Linked DNA regions of Homo sapiens: region 1 is linked to region 2. A link means that fine-mapping ties the variant in region 2 to the expression of a gene that starts in the linked region. Tissue or cell type: whole blood. Region 2 holds a variant in brackets; the other region holds the start of a gene. All regions are shown on one strand. Distances are from middle to middle. Region 1 holds the start of EDEM1 (ER degradation enhancing alpha-mannosidase like protein 1). Region 2 overlaps EDEM1 (ER degradation enhancing alpha-mannosidase like protein 1).

Region 1 (11,181 bases), 30 kb after region 2:
TCATCCAAGGTCAGGAGTTCAAGACCAGCCTGGCCAACATGGCAAGACCCTGTCTCTACTAAAAATACAAAAATTAGCTGGGCGTGGTGGCAGGCGCCTGTAATCCCAGCTACTAGGGAGGCTGAGGCAGAAGAATTACTTGAACTCAGGAGGCGGAGGTTGCGGTGAGCCGAGATCATGCCATTGCACTCCAGCCTGGGCAACAAGAGCGAAACTCTGTCTCAAAAAAAAAAAAAATTTTAGATACTGTTTTTTTGAAACGAGATATATATGGGGGCTATAGTCTAGGAACTAGGGCTAGCTCATTTCCTATAAGCTGGGAAGTCAGAAAACTGCTTGGCTGGAAAATTGTACCTGTTTTTTCTATTTGTTGATTTTCTGGAAATAAACTTATACAATAGCAAAAGGTCCCCTCAAAGCAAGAGCTATGGATTCAAATATGCCTCTCAAGCGCAAGTGACAGCCAAAAAAGGTACAAAAAGTGCAAGGGTTGCAGGAGGGGCTCAAAGGAGACAGGGAGATCCTTACGCCCAATTCTGCCAACTCAAGAATGTTCTGCTCTGTGTAAATATTTCACTCTGTTGCTCTGCCGCTTAGAAACAGAGTGGGCTTCAACAGCCCACCTCATCAGAAAACAGCTCCCTCATCATGTAGCATCCAAGCTAGATGGTAATCAGGAGAACCACATGTAACTCCCCTCTCCTGAGTCACACCCAGATCTGCGGCATGTGTCATTCTATCCACCTGCACAGGCCCATGGAAGGAAGGTACTCACTGTGAGCACTGAACTCCTTTCTATGTTTTATTGTGCTTTGCCTTGTAATCTATAACTAAAATAGACCCAGTTTTAAAATATTTTTTACAATGCCCAGTCACTAAAAATTAATGAGCTGCCACAGTAAAAAAAAAAAAAAAAATTACTTGCAGTAACTGTGGGGTTTCTTCTCTCCACTCTAGTCAGACAAATCCTCTCTAAGATCTGGGGTATTTACTCATTAGAACACTTTTAATTCTTTCTTACCAAATAATTGCTACATCCTCTTTCAAAAGGTGCCAAAATAAGGGGGAAGTGGGAGTGAGGATGAAGGAAGAAAAAAAAACACCATAAAACTCTACTGGCCTAACAGCATGAAATTATTATGACTCCATTTATGCCAGCCCACTATGCAGCTCAGACTCTGGATTTGTTCTTTGTAGATATTCTTGTCAATCTCCAGCCTAACCTGATACCTTTAAGTTCATCCAGCAAGAACTCAATACCTTTCCCTGTAACCAGCTGGCTGAACCGCACAACTAAACGCTCCACTTACTTCACCAGGTACAAATGTTCATGGCATTCACCCCACTGTAAATTTTTAAAGTTCACCTCAAAACAGAAAAGATGGAGAAAACCATGGCCTTTGATAGAAAATTTTTGATTATGTAGCTAACAAAATCAAACATATGTGTTTTTAAATTTAAATTCCCATGTATACTTAACCTGTAACAGCTGTTCAGAAATCTACCTGGTGTGGTGTAGGCACAGAGATAACATAAGAAACAGTCCCTGCGTTCAAGGGATTGATAATCTGGAGAGACAAGACAAAGGGAAATGCAGGTGAATACACAACAGTACTCAATCCTCAAATAAGGTTAAAATGTAGAATCGCAGCTCAAAGGAAAGGAATCAAAAGAAGAACTGAGCAAATAAAGGAAAATCATCTTCAAACAGTTAGATGGTGTCACGGAAACAAGAGGAGCCTGACTCTGAAAGAGGGCAGGACTTTCCAAAGAAAGAGGAATGCAGAGGAGGCCATCTTGAGCTAGTAGTACCTAAGCATTTGAGGGGCCAATATTTGTTTGGCTTAATTTGAGATTTGTTTTGTTGTTTTAATAGCAATACAGTTGAGAAGAAATTGAGAATGGTCACATGCCCAAAAGCCAGAACTACAGTTAACCATTCACAGGATTACAAAAATATAATATCCACATTTACTCAAAGAAACTTTAAATTTGGATCCTCCAACCCAAATTAAGGATGTGAGAACTGACTTTGCATAGTTATCTTAGACAGATCTGCTCTTTTTAGAGTGTTCAGGTTTTATTCACTTCATGTTAACTCCTTACCTGATACCTCCCCAAGAACAAGTCACATGTACTTGAGGCAAGATAAGTTTGGAGCATATATGACTACAGAGAAACGGTAAGAGTGTTTAGCACCGAAATTTTCTATGTGTACTTTTTATATAATACTCTAATGGCAAATTCACTCTTGTTAAATGAGTCATTAGAATACATTTGATTTTTTAAAATCTGAAAGATTTTTGGCTGGGCTTGGTGGCTCACACCTATAATCTCAGCACTTTGGGAGGCCAAGGCGGGAAGACTGCTTGAGGCCAGGGGTTTGAGACCATCCTGGGCAACAAAGTAAGACCCCACTTCTACAGAAAAATTAAAAAAAAAAAAAATTAGCCGAGCATGGTGGGGCACACCTCTAGTCCCAGCTATTCGGGAGGCTGAGGCAGGAGGACTGCTTGAGCCCAGGAGTTCAAGGCTGCAGTGAGCAATGATTATGCCACTGCACTCCAGCCTGGGTGACAGAACAATACCCTGTCAATTAAACAAACAAACAAAAAATATGAAAAATTTTTATTACAGATTATTTAGTTTGGGGATGTGAAGTACCCTCCTGTTTCAAAGCCAGCATGACAATACTCTGGTTTTAAACTTTCCTCAAGGCCTAGTATTCGATAGCATAACAGGAGGACTACAGTCAATAATAATTTAACTGTACATTTTAAAATAACTAAAAGTATAATTGGATTGTTTGTAACACAAAAGAAAAATGCTTGAGGGGTTGGATACCCAATTTTCCATGATGTGATTATTACAAATTGCATGCCTGTGCCAAAATATCTCATGTACCCTATAAATATATACACCTACTGTGTATCCTCAAAAATTAAAAATAAATTTTTTTAAAAAATATTTAAAAAAAAGCAAAGCCTGAGAGGAGTTAAAGGAAGGAGAGTACAAAAAATTAAGTTTTCCACTGTTTGTAAGTGGCAAGTGTGAGGCGTCCATGCAAGGCTTCTTTGGCCTCCTCAAAGACAACAAAGGTTTACCAACCAACGGGCCTACCCAGCTCAGGGCACAACCCTTCCCTAATGCCATCCCCACCTCCTCAATACTTCTAAAACCCTCTTTCCAATAACACATCTGTCTCAAAGCAACCTGACCTTAACTTACGCATAACCAAACCAATGCATAACCAAACCAAAACACTCATCGGCAGCCTTCATCCTGAAATAAAGGCCAACAGCACACATGATACCACAAAGACCAGCAAGTTAAATCAACCACCACCTCACTTTGCTGGGAAGGGATTCTTAAGGTTCTCCAGAAGCGCTTTTAAGGTTCATTAAGAAAAACATTAAAATGTCATCAACTCACTCTCCAAACCGTCATATTCTCAAATGAAAGTGTTATCACAATTCCCCGTTAAACTGTTTTCAACTTCAGTCCACCTGATAAAAGGTAATCTGAGAAACAGTCTGTGAGCAGGAATAAAGGCACTTATTGGAAGTGCTCTCTCCCTTCTTGTAATACCAAGAGCACTAGTGGAAAAGCACAAATTAAGATCCAAAATATGTACACATACTATGATTGCAACTATGTAAAACATGCATAGACATATGGGTAGGAACTAGTGGCAAAAATAAATTTAAAATAGCTGGTGGGATTTTATGATATTTTTCAAACTTTAATGATGTTGATTTAAAAAGAAAAAACATCAAAGCATGATGTAGGCTGACAACAAAAAAAAGACCACAATTAAATGAAGTTTATCCCCCCCCCCAAAAAAAAAACTAAGAAAGAAAATACATTTATAGGTATAAAGTCCCCTCTAGTTAAGTGAGCCAAATAATTCATTCATTTCTTAAAATCTGGAAAGACCATGGCCGGGAGCGGTGGCTCACGCCTGTAATCCCAGCACTTTGGGAGGCCCAGGCGGGTGGATCACGAGGTCAGGAGATGAGACCATCCTGGCTAATACGGTGAAACCCCGTCTCTACTAAAAATACAAAAAATTAGCCGGGCGTGGTGGCACGAGTCTGTAGTCCCAGCTACTCGGGAGGCTGAGGCAGGAGAATCACTTTAACCACAGAGGCGGAGGTTGCAGTGAGCGGAGATCGCGCCACTGCACTCCAGCCTGGGCGACAAAGCGAGACTCCGTCTCAAAAAACAAACAAAAAATCTGGAAAGGCCAAATACTTTTTTTTCAAAATTTAATATTTTTTCTCAAAAAAATTGAGATAGAAAATACACTTATACGTATAAACGCTATGGTTAAGCAAGAAAAACTCATCGGTTTCCTAGAATTTTGAAAAGGCTCAGTCCTTTGAATTTAGCTTGGGATGTCCCCTTGCTTCGGTAGAAATCATGCTCTCAAACTGCAATTTAAAACATAAATGTGTAAATAACCACACCATTTTAAAAACCCAACTCCGTTTAGTCTATAGGCTTCCTTATCAGAACCTAAGGACTGGACTCCACTGCTTTCCTCCAGGTGAAGGAAAATGCTTGCCCCAGACGGTGCCAAGACACTGAGCAAACCAACTCCTCCACTCCCATCCAGGGGAGGGGAGTCAACTATTTGGACTAACAGGGTCTATGGCAATGCACATTCCTTCCCTACAGGTAAGAGGTCCTTAGCTGGGTGTACTGCCCTCTTGGACTTTGATGTCAACAGTGGTGACCCTTGGAGCTCAGCCTTTGCAAACAAGGCTGGTGAACAGGGAAGACTGCCTGACCTTCCCGGACAACCACGCCACCAGAGGCGGGGGATTTATAGACAGATCGTACAGGGCGATGACGTTGACAGTCAATCTGGCATCCAGTGAATTTCACCTCAAGTATCTGGACCCCAAAAGTGGGCCACATAGCTTCCCTCCCCACCACCTAACTATCCTCAGCCTAAGAAGCAGCCCCTGTGAAGGAGAGGCTGTAACCCCGTTCTGCCTCAAACTCAATGGACGGCTTTGGAGAAGTCAACTATAGGCTTTTTACATAGAAAAGACGTGGGTGTGGCAATGTGATAGAGGTGGGGGTGCGAGGTAAAGGCTTGTTCTGAGGCTGCGTTTACACGGGGGGCATGATGGAGATTTCATTTAGAGTTTATGCTCATCCGGAGGAAGGGGTCGGATGGAAGTGGAAAGCCCTCCAAGCCAGCCCTTGGCACTGCCACTGTCCCTTCTGGTCCTGGACCTCAGTATCCTCACGCGTAAGACACTGAGCTGGACAGCAGTTCTGAAGTTTGGAGATTCCGGGAGAATCAGGAGAGGAAGGCCACCGGCCCACCCCGCACCCTCAAGCTCGGGGGTCTTCACAGGGACTCACACGGGACAGGGCGCGGGAGCGCTGCCCGGGACCCTAACGGCCCTGGCGCCCTCGGGGGCCCCGGAGGACAGAGGGCTGCACCCCGGCGCGGAGGGCGGAAGGAAGCGCGTGGGCGCGCGGCCCCGGGCGGCGGGGGCTACTCACGGGTCCCCGCGGTCGGGCCCACGGCCGCGGCAGTGGATGGGGTTGAGCTCGTCCTGGGGGAAGGCGTGAGCCATGTAGTTGTCGTAGCCAAAGACGAACATGCCCCGTGCCAGGTCGCGCATCTGGGCACGCAGCTGCGGAGGGAAGGCGCCGCTGTAGCGCTTCTCGTACTCGTCCGGGCCGCGGCCCCGGCCGCCCAGCACGTAGCCCCAGTTGGCTGGGCCGCACATCCCCGGCCCAGGACGCCGCGGAGCCTTGCGCGGGCTCTGCGCTGCCCCGGTCCCCGGCGGCTGCAGCCACGACGGCCCGGATACCCCCCCAGGCCGGCCCACGGGCCCCGAGGTGGGCGACGCGGGGCCGTCGGGGCTCCTCAGACGCTGGAAGCCGAAGCTGAGCGGAAAGCGCTGGTAGAAGCCCATGCTGGGCCCCAGCCCGAAGACGAGCCACAATACTCCATGGAGGCCAAGCCGGAGGAGCACCAGCCCCAGGACGAGCGCTCGCCATTGCATGGTCGCGCGGGCGCCGCGGGCATTATTTTAAAGCGCGGGGGCCTCCCCGCCGACCACCGCACCCCGCGCTCGCCCCGTAGCCCGGCTCGCTTCCCCTTTAAGGAACTCCCCCGTGACGCACCAGGAACTAGCCCATCGTCCCCAACCCCCAGGCTCTCCGGCGGGCCGGCCAGGCCCCACGGTCGCCCGCCCAGTGGCCCGGGATTGGCCCGGCCTGGGCCCGGCCTCGCGGGGCGCGGCCCAGGACTCCCTCCCACGCAGTAGGCCGCCAGGACGTCCGCGACGCCCCGAGGCCCCGCCCCTCACCCGGGCCCCGCCCCAACTCCCAAGCCCCGCCCCCCTGGGCGGTCCGTAGCCCGATGGGCTGGCGTGGCGAGCAGGAGCCGCGCCGGCCCGCGAGGGAACTTCCAGCCAATGGGAGAGCGGCACGGCAGCGCCCGCCGGACGCTGGACACAGACGTGACCCCAGACCGCCTGGCCTTGGGTGGATCGGGTCTCTGGGCAGAGCGTGTGTCCGGCAGAGCTAGGACCGGAAAAAGCCACTCTAGGTCTAGGTTAGGAGTGATGACAGTTAAAAGATATATAAGGAAAAGAAGGAAAGGATCGTTTCTGTATAAAACGAGCTATTTTTGCATATCGAGCGCATAAGTTTTATAACTTAGGTGTCTGTTTATGGAGAGGGTGGGATACTACCTTTTAGCTCAAGGAGTGCACAAAACGGTATCATGAATTCTGCTCTTTTGATTCAAACACCCAACTTTGAAGAATCGCTCATGGTGCTTGTAAAACACGTATCCCCAGATCCCTCCCTAGACCTATCGAACAACTCCAACGGTCTCGGGAATGTGCGTGTAAGTACTCTTGGACAGTTCTTAGAAACTGGAAGTTTCAGGAAATACAAAGTTATGTTATATTGCTTTTGTCTCGGAAATAGGATTTTTTTAAAAGGGGGGGGCGGGTTGGGGGTGGGAATGAAGGCTCCCACCACCACCAAATTATTTACCAGATATATCTAAACATGTCTTCTCCTGTCCCTCCCATCCTACCATCTCTCCTGTGCACCCGCAATTAGTGACCTAACCTTTGAGGTGTGGGGTAGATTCCCAGTTAAATAACTTTACCCCTCTGTATCTACTTCCTATAATTAAGAAGATTGCAAATGTTAGCTCTAAAGGGCTATGGCTTTCACATAAAGATTCAATGGTTTAGGCGCTTATTTATTTTGCTTGCTGCATTTGGAGTTGGCTGTAAGTTTTGCCCTCCCTAAGTTTAGACCCTATGCCTGTTTCATCAGGGTTTCTGAAAAGCTTGGGAAGCAAGACCTGACTAGACCCCCAAATCTGATATTGGCTGAATGGCCGACCAATGGAGTGCATAAGAAGGTAAGTTGTCATGTGGCACTCTCATCACATTTTCAGGGTAGAGGACTTTCTGAAATACAGAGGAGGTGTAAGGGGAACTAAGAAAACACTTGATTACAGCACATGGTAGCTGGCACATAGGAAGGTCCTTACTGTTGGCTGAGCCTTGTTCTTTCCCAACATTGAGACATCGAGAGCAGCCCAAGCAGCAAAAAGATTACGAAGACAGCTTGAGCCAGGGTCTTTAGACTACACAGCTTCTGCTTTTTCCCCTCTGTGAAGGATGCCTAGGGACTGTGCTGGCAGCCCAGCTCCAGCCCTTGATCCTGAACTTCTGCCTTCCTGGAACTTGCAAACTGAATGTGAATATTCAGTTGCATGTTGCATGTTTCCTTCCGGGGCTACTTTATTGCAAATTTTAACTTAAATTTGACCTGGTTAACTGCAGGCCACATTGAGGACAGCTTCTGTCTTGATGTTAGAGAAAAACTCTTATAAAAATAAATCTTTTAATAACCAGAGAAAACCATCCAACTCCTGAAAGATGCTTTTCATAGTAAAACTGATGGTTTTCAAAACACTTTGACATGTGTGCTTATTTAATCTTCATAGAAAACTGTAAAGCTTATTCCACAAGCCATAATGGAAGAAATCAGGTTGGGGGCTCAATTCTCAGAGCCTGTTGGCTCTAGGCAGAAAGGGAGTTACTACACTTTAGGGCAATTTGCACTTCAAATAGCTGGCCCTTGAGCAGACAGGTCCCTCTGCTCTTTCCAAGCCACCCAAAAGCAATAGTTTTGACATTAGTGCCCTGCAAGGCATAGCCTAGGCATTAGGGTCTAGGTTCAGAAAGTGTTTCCTTCTGGAATGAAACTGAAATGAAAGAAATGGGTTATTTTGTGCTAGTCCTTTCGATTAGGACTCTCCTTAAGCTAAATGTACTGATAAGATTGGGACAACACCCATACCCAATCAGAAAACTCCAGTCTTGAAAATCAACTCTTTAAGATAAACAGTTTGATTTGTGACAGGTTTTCCGGTAATCTCACAAGCGCATCAGGGACTGATAAAAAAGGAAAGGAGGCACTTTTTCAGTGTAAAAATGGCTTTACTCTGGGGAATGCAAAGAGATGACAACTAAGAACTCACATTCAGAAGTCAGGTGTTCAAATCGTAGCTCTGCCCTAAGAGTGACCTTGGGAAGTTACTTTTCTAGGACTTGTTTCCTCATCCATAAAATGGGTGAGTGATGAGGACAATGTTTATCACAGTTGTGATTACATCATATATATATATAAAGTACTTACAACCGTGCTACATAGTGAGACCTATTAATACTTTTCAACTCTGAAACTTTTAAAACTAGCACCCGGCTGGGCGTGGTGGCTCACACCTGTAATCCCAGAACTTTGGGAGGCCAAGGCAGGCAGATCACTTAAGGTCCGGAGTTCAAGACCAACCTGGCCAAAATGATGAAACCCCATCTCTACTAAAAATACAACTACCCGGGCGTGGTGGTGGGCGTCTGTAATCCCAGATACTCAGGAGGCTGAGGCACGAGAATCACTTGAATCCAGGAGGCAGAGGTTGCAGTGAGCTGAGATAGCGCCACCACACTCCATTCTGGGCAAGAGAGTGAGACTGCGTCTCAAAAAAAAAAAAGTATTTCAAAAGCAGAGGTTTTGCAAAGCTGAAGGCCTAAAAAAAAGTATATAATTACAGTTCAAACTTATTTGATGGGCACAAATCCAAGTTTGTCAACATGCTCTGTTAGCAAGATACAGGATACTCGAGAGGCTGAGGCAGGAAGATCCCCTGAGCCAGTAGTTTGAAGCTGCGTTTCCTATGATCGTGGCTGTAAATAGCCAATGCAATTACCTGGGTAACAGTGAGACTTCATCTCTTTTTTAAAAAGGCATAGGGGACTGGGACTGGTAAAAACAAAAACTAGTACTTCCCGTGTGAAGGGTCATTTGGCAATTCCTAGTGTCAGAAAAAAATTACAACAAATTTACTTACAGATCTAACTGGCGTTTATTCATAACTTATGAATGGGGCAGCCTCCATTCTACAAAACAGAATGAAAGCTCCCAATGAGAAACAGCAGAATAGTGGGTTTTGTAAGATGAGAGCAAGGAAACAAAACAATGAAAAATAACTGATTGGTTAACATCGGGTTACTTTTTTTTTAAGGGTTAAAGAAGAAGGGACTTCCTTATTATTCTGATTCAGACAGACTGGGATTTTCTGTTTTCAGGAAAAACTGGTCTGTAAAGTTTCCATGTAACTGTGTGGCACTTAATATATGTAACTACTTTGGTCTGCTAGGACCTAGTGCAGAAACTCAGTCCACAAACAATGACCCCCCATAATTTTGGTTTAACGTTAGCACAAGTCGCCAGGCGCGGTGGCTCACGCCGGTAATCCCAGCACTTTGGGAGGCTGAGGCGGGTGGATCACTTGAGGTCAGAGTTCAAGACTAGCCTGGCCAACATGGTGAAACCCCATCTGCACTAAAACTACAAAAATCAGCTTGGCATAGTGGCACATGCCCGTAGTCCCAGCTACTTGGGAGGCTGAGGTAGGAGAATTGCTTGAACCCAGGAGGCGGACGTTGCAGTGAGTCGAGATTGCGCCACTGAACTCCAGCCTGATGACAGAGCAAGACTATCTCAAAAAGGAAGAAAAGATAGTGAGATTCCCTTCTAGCAGTTCTAACACCAAACCACTGAAACAAATATATGAACTATACATCAAAAATATTCATCATGCACATGCCCATACCATGCTCTAGCCTTTAGGTTACTGATGCTTCCAGAGAATATAGGAATTCTATAAATCCTTAACCCTTCTTTGAATGAGGGCTAGCGCTTATAAATTAGCTAATAGTATGACAAATAAGAGCAATTTGAATTTTTCTTACAGAATAAAATATACAAATGGAAGAGTTATCTAATTCACCTATTGGGTAGTAGATAGAAATGGTGAATTCTCTTAAGCCACAGAAACAAGCTAGCACATTGTGTGATACACATTGTACAACACTGAGGGTAAGTCACAATTGTAGATAAGAATTGGTTAAGGGAGATGCTATAATTAGCAAGTGGTTAATGTTCTACTTCCCAAGTCCAAAAGGGGATACAATGGTTTTGTTGGTCCTCCAGCCCCTTTACTTTTAAGAGTAGTATTTTCTAACCATTCCAGGTTTCTCCAAAGCTCTGGATAAATTCTAGCAGAACCTAGCTGGCCGGGCATGGTGGCTCATACCTGTAATCCCAGCACTCTGGGAAGCTGAGGTGGGCGGATCACAAGGTCAGGAGATCGAGACCATGGTGAAACCCCGTCCCTACTAAAAATATTAAAAAATTAGCCAGGCGTGGCGGCGGGCGCCTACAGTCCCAGCTACTCGGGAGGCTGAGGCAGGAGAATGGCGGGAACCCGAGAGGCGGAGCTTGCAGTGAGCTGAGATGGCGCCACTGCACTCCAGCCTGGGCAACAGAGTGAGACTCCATCTCAAAACAAACAAACAAAAAAACCCCCAAAAACCCAGCAACACAGCAGTTATAAAGGATTAAACCTTAGCTCTAAACCACCTACCCTCAAATTGGTAGTAGGTATATACACTTTTCTGGAGTGCATACCAAACATTTTCTGCAGTCTGGGGAAAATGTTCTAAAATTTGTAAATGCCTTTCAAAATATAAGCCGGTATATTTACAGAATTTCCTTCAAACAAAATAAATTTACTGTATCATTCTGTAAAATGTCTGCAATCTCCAGCTTTTGTGC
Region 2 (9,940 bases):
CGACATCCCTTCTCTTCATACGGGGGCTAGAACCAAACCATTCACAATGGCACCGTGAAAATAAGTAATTCAAATTTAAGCTGTTGGAACTTTTAAATATTTCAAGCCTTAAGGAAATGTGATTATGGGACCTGAGTTCAGGCATCTGTAACCTTTATTTTTCTGACTATAGATTAGCCTTCTTCCTTACCTACATTGCTTTGTAAGAAGTGACTAAAGGGCACCAGGGAAGACTCCTTCCTTCTTCACTGTTGATCTTCACTATAGATTAACTTCCCTCTTCCCTTTCTCACACAAAGACCTCATGACTATCACACTGTCTCAAGAAGGAATGTTAAATGGACTCTTAAATTGGAAAGGACATGAAAACAAGCTGTACAGAAAATAAACAAAACTGTAACAAAACTGTTGTTAACTCGTAAACCATCCTCGTACGGAATATGTTTTAATCCTACTAGATATCTTTGTCTTCTACCTATGTAAGCAAGACCTTAACTTCTAACTTGGGAGCATTGACCCCATTTTTCTGGAGTCTGTGTTCCCTGGGTAACCGGTTATTCCCGGCTTTGGGATCTAATAAACTCTTAATCATATATCTAATATACTTCATCATATTTTCTGAATTTCATCATTTAAGGTTGACGGCATCTAAAAGAGAGCGTCAGGCTGTTGCTTCCAGTGGGTTCCGCTGTGACAGGAAGCAAGATTGTTTACTTTCCAGGGTTCTCTGCTGGAGAAATGGAATCATAGAATTTACCGCTCAGGACTTGGGTGAGGTTTGAATGTAACAGGCTTTTAAACCATACACACATGCACGTGAGTGCACACAAGCACATAGACAGACACACACACACACACACACACACACACACACACAGAGCCAGAGTGGGGAGGGACTGTTCATTCTTTAGGCCACTGACTAGCAGACTGGGCCAGACGCTTAAGCACAAAGACCAGGTGTGCTGGGGCACAGGTACCACCACACCCAACCACTCTGCACCTCCTGGTCTGGGTTTCTGAGTTAGGAAGACATTAGCATACTTCCTTGATTAAAGAAGGAAAAAAAAACTTTAAGGGACAAAGAGACATAACCTGTAAACATTTTAGCAGCTGCCGCCTCACACGCTGACAAATGTAGCTTCTAATTCATTTTGCCATCACGGGAACCCTAGGAGTTGATGTGCTATCATCTCTGATTTTAAAAGTGAGGACACCGTGTGAAGGTGAGTGCCTTGACCCAAGCCACACATCCAGGACAAAGCCAGGAGGCCAGCCCAGCCTCCCCATGGCCAGCCATGTTCTTACTCTTCCTCCAGCATCCCTGTTTAAGCCCTAGGTCTGATCCTGGATGTCAAATCCAGCTGGACCATAATTATAGGAAACACGTTAAGTGCCTTACACATATGAATCCACCCAGTCCTCACAACTATCCTGAGTATGGGCTATTATTATCAACCCATTTACTAGACAGGAAAACTGAGGCCATCAAGTCTGTAACTTGCCCAAGGCACACAGCTAAGTTAGGGGTAGAGTTGGAATTGTACCCAGCACCGTGTGGCCCAGAGTCCCCATACTCCACCCGACACTGACTACAGCGTTCATACAGGACTGCTGGGCTCCACTTGCTCCACAGATGGCAAAGGGCCTGGTGCTCCCACTACTGAGGCAGCCTGGAGTGGGAAAGGCAGGAAGGCAAGAACCCTGTGGCTCTTGATTTGGTCCCTTGGCCCACTGGACTTGCTTGGTTTTGTCAAGATCACAAACCCACAAGACTTGACAAACACAACCCCACCACCCCTCACAATAGTAGAGCTCAATGTGGGCAAGGTGTTTCCAGCCTTGAGAGTCTCTCCTTCGCCCTGTCATGCTTCGTGGCCTTTAAAAAGGCCCATCAGGCGTGGTGGCTCATGCCTGTAACCCCAGCACTTTGGGAGGCCAAGATGGGCAGATCACCTGAGGTGAGGTGTTTGACACCAGCCTGGCCAACATGGTGAAACCCCGTCGCTACTAAAAATACAAAAATGAGCCTGGTGTCGTGACACGTGCCTGTAGTCCCAGCTACTCAGGGAGGCTGAGACAGGAGAATCAGTTGAACCCAGGAGGCAGAGGTTGCAGTGAGCCGAGATCGTGCCACTGCACTCCAGCCTGGGTGACTGAGTGAGACTCTGTCTCAAATAAAAAAAAAAAAAAACCCGTATCAAAATTGTCTGTGACCAAAGCTGGGACACAGATGTCACAAAGCAGGAGCAGGTCCCTTCCTCAGGATCCCACCATGGTCCCCAGTGGCAACACACAGGGAGGGAGGCCAGCCCTCCAGAACCCTCTACCCACACGCTTCCCATGGGCCTCTGCACCCACACAGACCGTGAAGTGCCACTGCTCTCAGAGGTGAGGAGAAATGAAGCGCCTTGCTTAGATAACGCAGAGAACTGGTTTTAGATCCCAGATACACTCAGCTAATTGGCAATAAGAATAGACAATGAACTCAGTGGCCAAGAGAAAGGAGGCTGATGCAGAGGGGAAGGCCAGGGCTGGGACAAAAGTCATGAAAAGCAGTTCTGACCTGCATGTGAGGGGCATTTAATGGAAGAGTGTGACATACAAAAATGTAGTGGAATTCCATGGGGGAGGTATTACTTAGGGCTTAGCTATAAAAAGCAAGGTTTTATTCATCTAGATGGGCACTTCCTTTAGAGACTTTTCTCCCATTTGTCTTGCATGTAATGTAATGTACATGAGAATGTAAAAAAGAAACAAGATGACAACTCAAAAAAAGAAATCTTTTAATAAAAATTACTCATAAAAATCCTAATAAATTTTAAAGAGCAAGATATTCCTTATTACATTTATAAAAGAACATTTGGTCCTTTTACAAAAAGATCCCTTTTAATTTAAATACATTTCTTATTTACAGATTAAACATAAAATATCATCTACAGTTGCAAAGCATATTGCACATTACAGAGAAGCATTTGTGTATTTCCGTAAGTTTTCCCAGAGTTTCCAACTCTATACTTTTTTTTGTAAAAAGATTTACCTTTCTTATGCAAAATAAATAAAAATGCAGCTTGTGTTTTGCTATTTAAAACTAAAACAAAATAACCTTTAAAAATATTATTCCTCTGCCTTGCAGAAAGAAGGAAGAGGGTATAGAATCAGGGAGTTCCACAGGTACTTGATATTTTTACCAGATTCACGTCCAGATTCAAGCGGGAGCATAACCCTGAGCCCTGTGAAACCTGGGACACAGGGCCCAGCCCGTCCCACCTCCTCGATTTCCCAAGGGGTCCCTGCCCTGCAGGGAAGAGGCACTAGAATAGGAGCTGGATGCTGGGAATGGACAGGAAAGCTCAGGATTTTCTTCTAAAGTTCCTGCTCAGCCACCCTGTGGCTAAGGTAATCACTCAGCCCTACCTTTTCACCAGCACTACATTTGAAAAAAGATTTTTGTTTTTGTCAACAGACAAAAAAAATTTATCAAAGAGAAAGGCCCCTGGTGCCCTCCAGAAAGCAGAAAGGAATGTCTCATGTTGAGTCTACACAATCCAAAGAGGAATTACAGGTGGTAATCATTCAGTAAACTGAACTACGAAATCATTAAGAGGGATATTTTCCTTTGGTGGGGAGAAGGGGAAAGGGGAGGAGGAAACAAGGCCCTCAGATTGCACAACTGCACTGACCAAACCAGGTACTTCTACAGACGCTCCTCTAATAGTCACGTGCACAGACACCATCCTGGTGCATTTTTCTTTAAATACATAGAAAATTATTTAAGTGTCACGTGCACAGTCCATGATCTAAAACAAGAAAAGCCCTGAGGATTCAGTTACAATGAGTAAGTTCCAGCACAAGCGCTGCCAAAAAAAAAATTTAAAAAAATGAAGGAAAGATTTGAATACAGAAGCTGGTTTTTCACAATGGCCAGTGCAAATGGAGAGCTAGCAAACCCTCCCTTGCCACCTATGATTCTAGAAGGGATTCCTCGGTCACATCAACTAAAGTAGCTAAGCTACTGTAATGATTTGAAAGTTTGTTATGAGAGAATTATGCTTTGTCAAGCCAACTATAAGGCAGCTTTCTACAACAGTTCTGCAAAATGTTTCCACCACA[C/T]TGAGCAAAGCTGACACTAGACACTAGCTACACGTGGGAATAGGAAGATGGGCCAGGCTCAGAGCCGCCGCAAAGGATGAAGTCCACTCAGATTTGAGGCAATCCTGGGGCAAAGCACTGAGCAAAGCAACTTCTCTGGTAATCTCCTCCTCAGCCATTCTCTACCCAGTATTTCAGAACACAGAACAGAAGAAACTGCAAAAGCCCTGCAGGATATATCACAGCTGTTAACATTCTGACTTTAAAAAAAAAAAAAAAAAACAAGTAACCTTTGAAACTGGCTCAAAGAACCTTCTGGCATCCAGCCCCACAAACCACTGACTACATAGCATCAAACTTTGGACGGGGTAGTCTGGAAGCTCAACAACCAGGATTAATATGTACTAACTCACTCACCCTCAGTCTCACCCACTGGTATTAATTCCAGTACCCAGAAGTCAAGTGGGTTTGTGACTTAACATAAAACACGTTTCCTGACAGCCTGTGGCCCCTGGGAAGCACCTGCAGCATTGTGTAGTTTGCAAGCATGAGATCCCTATTCCCTATTCCAGGAGCATGAGGAGGAAGGAACACCCAGGCTTGCTCGAGTGACAGGCAAAGTGCCTCATTAAGAGAACACTGGAGTGCTTACCCACCACTGCCGCCACAGAAGCCAGAGCGGGAGAGGAGGGGAGCGCCAAGAGAAATCACAGGCAGGAAGAACTCACCTCCTTCTCTGAGATGCTCTATTTTCCCAAATGGGTCACTAACAGTCCCACCTGTTTGCCCAGAGACAAAGGTACAAGTATGCTCGTGTGTGCATGCATGCATGTGTGTGTAATTAACATTTTCAATGAGTCAGTGAAAACATTTAAAATATATATATATATTATTCTCAAAGTTTTCTATTCAGTAGATGGGACACTGTTAATAAACAGAATAATGCTTCTGAAATGAAAAAAGGTAAAATAGAAGCATTTTATTTTTTCTATTTTAAAACAATTGTTGTAATAAATGTTTAAGAGATAGAGATGGCACGTTTATTACTGAAAATACTCTTTTCAAAAATCTCAAAGAACTGAACTATATAAAACCATAACACTTAAAATTTTCAAGAAGGAATAAGATTTCTCCCTTTTGACTAAAAATGCAACATAAACTTAGACAGTGCTTATTTCTAGCTTTGAAAAGATGTACATGAAATCCTTAGAGGTGGGAAAACAGTGACAGGTGAGAACCGTGCTATGTGAGGCTGGAAGTTTTAGGGATTTCCTACCTTTTTTACTAGAATGCGTTTCCACCCATGACGCTTCATGGAAGCCAGACTAAGAGTCAACCCTGCTGCACTGTGTAAGAGTAGCAGGTGTGTATCAGTGTGAGTTCAAAGAGAGATGTTCTGGCTAAGAAAATAATAACAAAAAAACAAAGGCATTTTAGCACAACTTCCTCCTTCTACATGCTTACTTTTACAGGATGAAAGGCAAAGACTGGCCAAGCAATTTCCATCCCCCTTTCACCACGGTCTCACCATGTGGCTAAACAGGCCTCCTGAAACCATAGCAGTAGCTGCGACATCCAGTGCCCCAAACCAAAACCAATATAAGGCACTAATCTAAAGCCTGTATTACACAGAGAAATGGCTCAAGGATGCTAAAAGTCATGTGATCATTTCTTTCTCCCTGATTTAGCTAATTGGCACTAGACACAGAAAACAGAAACAAAACAGAACTCTAACCCAAATATGGTCAGAAGTGAGAATCCTTGCTTAGGAAATATGAGAAAGATGGAAGCTCAGACAATCTTAGGTATTGTTCTCTCCCTAAAAGGCACCTGATTCTGGAACTATGGGAGTTCCTCAGGTAAGTTCATATTCAAAATGCAAAATACCACCCAAAAGATGTCAGTTAACCTCTTAGACCATAACATAATAACCTAAGAGACTATCTGTTAAGAATTCTGGTTAAGACCATTCTTCTTAAGCAAATAATTTGTAACACTGTAAAGATTACTTGAGGCAAACATGAAAAACTGGATGACTTTTTCTCCCATGTGATCCAAAATCACGGTTGGATATCAGGGGAAGACCCCAATTATCTAACAACAGAAAGGATGACATTTTCAATGCAATTAAATAGGGATACCAAATGAACCATGGGCCCTTTTGCAGAAATTTCATTCTCAATCCTCTAACAAAGAAGTAGCTAGCCAGGTACAGTGGTGCTCACCTGTAATCCCAGCTACTCGGGAGGCTGAGGCAGAAGGATCACTTGAGCCCAGGTAACCCTGTCCCAAAAAAATATCAAGACCCTGTCTCAAAAAAATAAAATATAATAAAAAAAATTTTTTAAAGACATAGCAATACTCCAGTATAGCAGGTGCCAGCAAAGTGAAGAGACTTAGGTTCTGAAGTATAAAGCTGTGAACATCAATCCAAAGATGCCCCATCTATTGTGCTTATAACATCAACATGTCATAAGAGGGCAATTTCCATGTATCTTCTCACTTCAAATTATATCCTTAACAGGGCATTTTATTGAACAGGAGAGAAACACTGAAGTGTGCAAGGATTAACCAGACGTGGTGAGGTGTTGCACAGAAATTCCTACACCACCATGGACAGCAAGACTTCTGTCCCCTTTCATTTCAGACTGGACTTTGGCATGGTCTGGGTTTGGTCGTTAAGGTCTGGTTCAAGATGAGGCCTCACAGAGAGCAGATCAAATCAAACCAACCATCTGGTCAATCTGTCGCATGTAGATGCTCTTTAAGGGCAGGGAGTACCTCCTCTCATCAGGTACACGATTGCACTAGAAAGACAAAAACGAGGGAAAATTAAAAACTCATATGTTGCTCTCTCAGGAAATGTGACTGGATGACTTAATCCAGGGTTTCTCAGCCTGTGAACTACTGACGTTTGGAAGTAACTGTTGTGGAAGCTGCCTGTACACTGCAGGACGGTCAGCAGCACCCCTTGCCTCTCCCACTAGGTGCCAGTGGCAACTCCTACGCCTCAGCTGTGAAAATCAAAAACGTCTCCAGACGCTGTTCCAATGTTCCCTGAGGAGCAAAATCACCCTCAGGTGAAGACCAGTGACATAATTTAACATCCTCACTCACTTTATAAAGAAATGGCAGATCCAGGGAAGCTAAAAGGCATCGCAGCAACTGCTTCGTGGCCAGGACTGAAAGCCACATCCCTGGGGTCCTTAGTCCGCCCAGAATTTCAGAAAACATTTCTGCTACTTGAAAATACTGTGTTTTTCTGAGCTATGTTTTTCTCATTCACAACTCACTAAACTCTAAATGCTTAAGACTATTTCTTTAATTAAAACCCCCCCACCCCCACCACTTTTTTTCCTCAAAGCAGATGCACATCTTGAGAACTAACCAACTGTGACATCCCTGGAAGCAGTTGTCTAAATACATTCATTATCTGCTTCATCTCCAAAGAAACATTTTCCCCACGCTTTGTAGTAAGTTGAACTTACTACACCCTGCTCCTCATCCCTGGCAAGATCAAGACTGGCCGGTCCTTCCATTGGTCCCGACTGCCCCCACCAGCCCACATCTCTGTGCTTTTGCAGGTGCTACTGCTTCTGCCTGAACACCCTTTCTGGGATACCCCTTTTCATCCTTCAAGGATCTCCAGCAAGTGACCTCCTCAGGGAATCCTGCCTTGATTTTCTCTGGAGATTACTCCCTACCCTCTGTGTTTCAACAGCACTACAGACAAACGCCTAGGATGGAAGTGGATTCCCCACTAGGCCATGCTCCTATCCAGAACCGGGAGCCCTTCTGAGGGCCTGAATCCCTGGTGCCTGGAATCATGGGATCAGATCTATTAGTGAGTATGGCAGGTCAGAGATGTCTCCTTCCTAAAAGAGAAGACACTGCCTGGGTCCAAATCCTGGCTCCACTGTGGGACCTGAACCTCTCTGTGCCTCCCTTTCTTCAGCTGTAAAATGGAGATGTTAAAAGTAACCACCCCTCACAGGGCTGTTGTTAGAAGTAAACAGATTAATGTACGTAAGCGTTTAGAATGGTGCAAAGGCTAACCCTGGTATGTGTTTGCAAATGCTGGCTGTTATTAACTCTTCCCCCTCTCACCCTCCTTCCCCTTCCTCCCGATTATGCTTTGTCCACTCAATCAGCGCTCCATGACTGATGGAAATGGGGGCGGGGGTGGTTATCTACACTCTGGCCTATCGATTTACTTCATAGACTGATGGTGAAGACCTTCACTGGGGCATTAACGGAAAAGCACTGAAGCACAGTCGGCGATGAGAGGGCACCCCTAATGCCAAGGCAACCCATCTGTGGGGAGGCTGCCGAACTCCTGACCACCAAGGCCCTGGGGGATAACAAGATTTGAAATTTTGACTGACCTACATTTCCCTATCCTCACTTCCAAATCATCCTATTTGATTCAAATCAACACAACTACCTGATACTTTCACTAGGGATGCAAGGACTTCCATTTCCAAATTTTTCCTGCTGCTTCTCAGGACAATCTAGGCATGTGGAGTAAAGCCCCACTTTAAATGAATGTGGGTGTTTGCTGCACTTCGAAGAGCATCTTCATTGGGACCATCGTGACCATCACTGCTTTTTTTCCCTTCTGCTGCTGGTAAATGATTTTGCTGAATGTCTTCCATTTGCCCCTCCAGGTCCACTGATGGATCATATCAACAGGCTCCCTCGGCCTCCAGCTTCTGCCCCAGGCAGCCAAGAAGATGCTCCAGCAGGCAACTGGGGGAGCGGGGAGGGGTCACATGTTGACTCTGCCGGCTCCCTCCAGGCAAGGCCTTGAAAGTCAGATCTGAGCCGTGGCTCCTGCTGAGTGCTCGCTCCTCCCACAAGGCTCCCCCCTTCCAGGATCCTGTAGCCACTCTCCCCACCAGCACCTGCAGCCAGCAGTGATGATGCCACCGCTGCTCCTGCGGTTTCCCTATACCCTGACAACAGCTATGTAAATGGTGTCTTTAGGAGGTGTTTTCAAATCTCCCAATCTGCATACACCATCAATTTTCTGTCAGGAAGTCTGAACAACTAAGCAATTCATAGTATCTTCTCTTCCTCTATATGCAAATCACCCCTGGAAAAAGCAACTCACGTTGGAGCTGGAGTTGATGACTTTTAACTCATGAGGTTTCGGCCTGTGCACAGACTTTCCCCCTTGGTCCTGCCCTCCCTCTTCAGAGAAGAATTCCTTCCATGGCAATTCCCGAAGATGCTCATCCACAGATACAATGTGTCCCTCTGTTGTGAACATGTATCTGGTTCCAGACTTGTGTACTGGATTGTCTTCATCAAACAGCTAGAGGGAACGGAGAAAAAGATACAACCAATAATTGTAGCACACTGGGAACTGAATCATGGGGGCGTGTCCCAGCTACTCAGGGAGTAGAATTTGCTTGGGCCTCATGCTTCTCAGTGACAACTGGGTGAAAAGGAATTGACTGACAACTGTGGTGCCCAACCCAGGCTGCAAGGCAGAATCACCTGCTTCATCTAAACTCAGATGCCCAGACCTGCCTCTCCCCTACACATACCCTGCCCAGACGCAGAGACTCAGAAATTCTGAAACTAAGGCCCAAGCACAGGTAGTCTATAAAAGTTCACTGGATGATTTCCATGTGCTACCTAAGAGTTCTCCTGCTGGAATTCTAGAACTACACCCAACCTCACACACACCTAGACCCTGAACTGTAAATGCTGACAGGGAGGGACCAAGTTTTATCCACCACCATTTCCCCAGGGCCTAGCACAGAGCCCAACACATCTGCCAACATTCACTTCACTTCTTGCACAACAAGGGTTGGGCTCTGAAGACGCAATGGACACAAGGCAC

What was found. PIP is the estimated chance that this variant, and not a neighbour inherited with it, causes the effect.
Region 1: EDEM1 starts here. The variant in region 2 is fine-mapped to the expression of EDEM1 in whole blood (INTERVAL, PIP above 0.99).

Annotation. Positions count from the first base shown.
Region 1 is chr3:5,182,657-5,193,837 of GRCh38, reverse strand. It overlaps EDEM1 (ER degradation enhancing alpha-mannosidase like protein 1), which reads right to left and starts at 6,131. Exons shown (of 12, transcript NM_014674.3): 1 at 5,524-6,131. The coding sequence starts at 6,032. RefSeq lists silencers at 4,026-4,145, 5,343-5,632, 5,683-5,852, 6,093-6,502 and enhancers at 5,143-5,192, 7,614-7,673.
Region 2 is chr3:5,212,785-5,222,724 of GRCh38, reverse strand. It overlaps EDEM1 (ER degradation enhancing alpha-mannosidase like protein 1), which reads right to left. Exons shown (of 12, transcript NM_014674.3): 11 at 9,203-9,406; 12 at 2,767-6,896. The coding sequence ends at 6,807. Among named protein-coding and RNA genes, the nearest start is that of EDEM1, 30 kb to the right of the region's middle. RefSeq lists enhancers at 1-407, 8,840-9,341. The variant C/T (reference allele first, on the strand shown) is at 4,111.